Regions from separate parts of the Homo sapiens genome. Here region 1 is linked to region 2. A link means that fine-mapping ties the variant in region 2 to the expression of a gene that starts in the linked region. Tissue or cell type: whole blood. Region 2 holds a variant in brackets; the other region holds the start of a gene. All regions are shown on one strand. Distances are from middle to middle.

Region 1 (2,676 bases), 27 kb after region 2:
TCCTCCACAAAGTGGGCGCTCACCTGAAGGTTAACTCAGGAGCCCTGGCTGTGGAGGCTACAGTCGCACCTGGCCACTTGGTCCGTCCCCACTAGCGACATCCCCTTTGCCGGGCTGCAGGGCCCATGACAGTCCAGGGATGGGAGGGCAGGGCCTGGGCAGGGCCCACTGCACCAACCTGGCTTTTAGAACAGAAAATTGCTGCTGCCCTGGTAGGGGTGGGAGCAGTGTGAGGTCTCAGACCCCAGGCCTGGAACCCAATGCTACTATTTGCTGCACTGGGGGCTGAGCACCGACACCCCAAAAGCCCCTGGCTGGGTGGCACCCTCGGGGTCTGAGGCACTGCTCTGGGACCCCACCTTCCCAGTGCAGGGCGGCAGGGAGCAGGTCCCAGCCTGAGCTGCTGTCCCACCCTTCAGAGTGCAGATGTGGAAACTGAGGCCGGAAGAGGGCGAGTATCCTGCTCCATTCCAGTGCCAGACGGAGGGGCAGGGCTGGCAGTAAGGGAATTTCCTACGTCCAGCGCCTTCTGGGTGTGCCTGACCTCTGGCCCGGTTCCTGGGTTCCTGGTTCCCTGCCTGGGCAGGGTCTCTGCCTCTCTGCCTCCTGGTGTGTCCAGCTGGAGTGGGCAGTAATGCTGTGGTCACAGCTGAGCTGCGGGAGCCCTGGGTGGGGAGCTTGAGCCCCAGAAGGCCCAGACAGACAGACCACCCCCCACGCCTGTGCTCCCCAGGGGGCATTGGGGACGGTCAGGGACACAGCTGGTCACCCCGCCTTCCCCTCCTTAGTCATGGTCACTCCTGGGGCGACTCCCCAGTTAGAGGGTTGACGGGTGGGTCTGGGGGCGTACAGGGATTGGATCCTACCCCACCCAAAAGGAACAGAGAGCTGTGATGGAGGCTGATTCCCCTAAGCCTGCCAGCGGTTGCGGGGTGGGAAGGGCTCCCTGTGCGCCCACCTGCGCGTGGGCAGCTGGAAGCCAAGCAGTCAGGGTGGGGCCGCAGGCCGGCGCGCACCTCGGGGTGCCACCCGGGCGGCGGACCCGAAGTTGAAGTTTATTTTCCCAACTGTGGCTGATTCATGGTCAGGATGTGGCAGCCGCGAGGCGCGGAAATCCCGCCTGCCCTGGGAGTAGGCCCGGCCGACCCTGGGCCCACCACTCTGCGGCCAGTGCGCGCTCGGGCGGTGCCTCGGCGCGGAGGACCATAGTCCCGAGCGGGGCGCGCGGAGCCGGGGGGGCCAGGGGCGCCCTGGGGTCCCCGCCCGGGAACTGTACCCTGCGCCGCCGGACCGCCCGCCGCCACCTGGGCACACACGCCGCAGCCCGGAACCTCGCTCCTGGACCCAAGCACGCCCCTGCCTCCTCCCGGACTCAGTTTCCCCTGAAGCTCCAAGCGGACCCCGAGGCCAAGGACTTACCCGGTGAGGCAACGGCCAGAGGGCGGTGGTGCGGCCGGCGCTCCGTCCGGGGCCGGGTCAGGGGCTGCGGGCAGCCGGCGCCCACTGCCGCGCTCCGCAAGGCTCGGACGGTGGCTCCTGGCGGGCGCGGGGCGGGCGGGGCGGGCGGGAGGAAGAGGAGGTGCCGCCCCGCCCGTCAGCGGCCACGTGGGGAGCGAGCGCGGGCCGGGGGCGGGGCCTGGGGGGGGAGGTGGGTGGCTGGGGGTGGCCCCGCCCACTGTGGCCGGTCCCTGAGGGCGCTTTAAGGGGTCTCCCCACTCCCGTGAATAACCTGGCCGCCCCCTCGCGGTCCCTGCTGGCCTGGCTCCTGGTGGGCGGAGATGGGGGTGGGACGCGCAGATCGGGGCCGTCTCCCGCCTCAGCCCCCACTGTCCGCCCCGTCCCTGCCCTCCACCGCCTCCCGTCCACCTACACCCCTATCCTCCGGTGGGACTGGCCTCCCAGGCGCCGCTCACCTCTCTCTGCCCCGGCCCGGGACTCCCGTTCCAGCCAGCCGGATCCGGAGTCCCCGCGTTCGGGGATCCCTCAGCAGAGATGGCTCTTCCCAGGCTTTGGGGAGAGAGAGCCTACCCATCAACCAGGCCACCCATGTGGCCTCCTCTCCGCAGCCCTGCCTGACCCCCTTCCACCCTTGATGGGGTCTCGGCGGTCTTGGGCAGCCGCACTTCGCCGGTTGGTGGAGACAGCTGCATGAGGGCCGCGGAGGTGTCGCAATGGGGTGGGTTTTCTCTGCCACCCCTCTGCTGTCCGGCCTCATCTGTCTCCTAGATTGAGGGGGGCACCCATCCCCCCACCGCCGACATTGACCAGCATGGGGCGTGCCCATAGTCGGCTCTGAAAGCCAGCCTGGTTGGATGAGAGCCAGACCCCAGCTCTGGAAGTCCCTTCTGACGTCTGACCCTCAGTCAGAGCTGCAGGAAGCAGCGCACCAGGCCTGGGGTTTGGGGGCCACTGGCAGCTAGAGGGAGGGCAGAGGAAGGCAGGCCTGGGGGAGCCCCCGTGTGACATGTGACAGAGCAGACACAACCCCTGCCCTGAGAACCGGCGCCAGCACTCCCTGTGCGGCCTCAGGCTCGGATATGACTCTGTGGAGCCTCAGTTTCCCCATCTGTAAAATAGAATAAGTACCCGTAAGGGCTGTATGAGGGTCAAGAACATGCGGATAAAGTGTCTCCACTCGGAGTCCTGACATCTCTCTCCGGAGGGCCTGCTGTGTGG
Region 2 (2,676 bases):
CCAACAGCTCCCGCCACCCAGACGGCCCCCACACATGGCCCCACAGGCCTCCTGCCCCCAACGCCCTCTTCGCTTTCTGGTCCAGGGGCCCTCGATGGCCCTTGTCTGAGTGTCACCCCCACTGCCACCACAGTGCCAGGTGGTGTCCCAGCTCCCCAGTGGGATGGCCCAAGCAGGGTTTGAGAACCACTACTCTAAACAGACAGCAAGAAAACAAAAACTATCCAAAACAATCACTCAAAGGAGGGTCTCAGCACCATTCCCCACTCAGGGAACCTGGAGAAATGGCCAAGACCAAGGCCCGTGCAGGGATGGGGGGATCAGCAAGTCTGGGGTGAGCTAGGAACAGGGGCTTGTGCCAAAGATGGGAAGCGCTCAGGGCCCCCGCTGGTCCCCATCAAATGCACGGCAGTGGCAGTGAAGGATTACTGCACGTTCAAAACTCACGTGATGGAAAAAGGGAGGGGAGGGGGGAACGCTCGGACGAGGGGCGGCGAACACAGAACCGCGCTGCAGCGGTTGGTTCCACAGGTCACCACCGGTGCTTATTAACCAGACAGCGTGGTGTTCGTGCAGTGGAGGTTCAGAAACCACCCCCGCAGCCGTGGTCAGCGCTGCTGCCACAAACGTCCCCACCCAGCTGGGGAGGACATGGCATCCCTTGGGGTAGAACTCCTGCCCCAAAACTCAACCTGGACCTACTTGGGGGCGCAATCAGGCAAACCCAAAGTGAAGTTATCTTCCAGAACGTCAATGTCATACAAGACAAAAAGGGGCAGGAATGTTCTAGAACAAAAGAGACTGAAGTGATATGATAACCAAACACAGCATGTGACTCTGGATACAATCTTGTTTGCAAAAACAACAAAGCAACAACTAGAGAAGGAATTATTGGGGCAAGTGGCACATCTGCACTGGGACCGAGTATTAGAAGCATGTGGACGTGAAGCGCCCCACAGCGGACCCTGCCCGGGGGGGACTGGGAGGACGGCAGCGCACCCTGCCCGGGGGGGCGGACTAGGAGGACGGCAGCGCGCCCTGCCCGGGGGGGGGACTGGGAGGACGGCAGCGCACCCTGCCCGGTGGGGGCGGACTGGGAGGACGGCAGCGCACCCTGCCCGGGGGGGACTGAGGAAGACGGCTGTGCTCTCAGGTGTCTGTGGGCGAGTTTAGGGCTCCAGTGCCATGATGTTTATAAGAAACTCTCAGATGCCTCAGTTGGAGGGGGGCAATGTAGCAAAATGGTCACAATTTTGGTATTTTTGGCAAATGGTTGTAATTTCGGGGAGAAGGTGTTGTTCATTCTGATCTATGCAGTTTCCTGTGGTGTTGAAGATTTTCTAAATAAAAAGGTGGGGGCTGGGCACGGTGGCTCACGCCTG[T/C]AATCCCAGCACTTTGGGAGGCCGAGGCGGGTGGATCACCTGAGGTCAGGAGTTCGAGACCAGCCTGACCAACATGGTGAAACCCTGTCTCTGCTAAAAATACAAAAAATTAGCCGCGCGTGGTGGCGTGTGCCTGTGGTCCCAGCTACTCGGGAGGCTGAGGCAGGAGAATCACTTGAACCTGGAAGGTGGAGGTTGCTGTGAGCTCAGATCGCACCACTGCACTCCAGCCTGGGCAACAGAGTGAGACTCCGTCTTGAAAAAAAATAAAAAATAAAAAGTTGGGGAGAGAAGAGGACTTCTTCCTCTTGCCCTCAGCCACGTGCGTGGCAGGAGCTGGGGCGGGTGGAGGCTAAGCACGTGTAGCAGGTTCAGGAGGGAACCAGGTGGAGCGTGGAGCTGGCACTGGACACGTCCATCTTTCACTGGACCATTGTCAGATGTGGCCGCCCGCCCCAGACCTGCATGCTCCACTGTTCCTCACACTCAGGGCCAGCAAGTCCAAGTTCCAGCCTCTAAGGGAGATGCCAGCACCTTTCTAAAAAGTACACGTGGGTGCTTCACACCAGAGAGCCACACTCGGAAGATGACCCTGGAAGCAAAAGCTGGAACCCAGGGTGAAGGCCGTGCCCCAACAGCGAGGACAAGCTGTCCGGAGAAGCTTCTCCGGGGTCACGACTGCTCTTGCCTCTGATGGGCACCAGCAGACCTCAGGTGTGCACCTTGAGCCTAAGCCCCAGGCCCAGCGGTCAGCATATTTGTGATGCACCGACACCGGGCTGGCTCTGAGCAAGGCTGGAGGTGCTGGAAGACGCCACGACCTGGGCTCACAGAGCTCATGATCGGCCGGGCTGGACCTTCTGGTTCTCTGCTCTAGCCCCTCCTCCACCCAGTGCAGGCTGGTCCTGTCTAGCTGGATGCATTGGCCTCTCCAGCCCTGTGGACGGACCTGGCTGATTGACCTTTGGCTGGTCGCCCCCCAGAAGACTCGGTGTGCGGGGGGTAATCTGCTTCTCCATAGACCCACCCATGGCCTCGGGGTGGGAGGACACTGTCCAACAGGAGGGGGGTTGCAGTGTACTTGTCCCTGGCAGCATCTGCCCTTGCGACTGTCCCGGTCTCCTCACAGACTTCCTGGGGACATGCCCCAGAAGGCCCCACGCCATTGACACACTTAGAGTGAAGATAGCCCTCCACCAACAGACAGAGCAGGAAAGCCACAGGGTTACTGGAACTGCAGTTAGCGCCAGGACACCAGACAGGAGCAACCTCAGCCTGTCCTGCCAGCCAGGAG

Evidence for each region. PIP is the estimated chance that this variant, and not a neighbour inherited with it, causes the effect.
Region 1: it holds the start of INF2, and the variant in region 2 is fine-mapped to the expression of INF2 in whole blood (TOPMed, PIP above 0.99).

Annotation. Positions count from the first base shown.
Region 1 is chr14:104,688,483-104,691,158 of GRCh38, reverse strand. INF2 (inverted formin 2) reads right to left here and starts at 1,541. Exons shown (of 23, transcript NM_022489.4): 1 at 1,420-1,541. RefSeq lists silencers at 1,028-1,077, 1,168-1,407, 1,428-1,517, 1,618-1,877 and enhancers at 1,570-2,559, 2,560-2,676.
Region 2 is chr14:104,715,673-104,718,348 of GRCh38, reverse strand. All of the region lies in intron 22 of INF2 (inverted formin 2), which reads right to left. Among named protein-coding and RNA genes, the nearest start is that of ADSS1, 7.2 kb to the left of the region's middle. The variant T/C (reference allele first, on the strand shown) is at 1,383.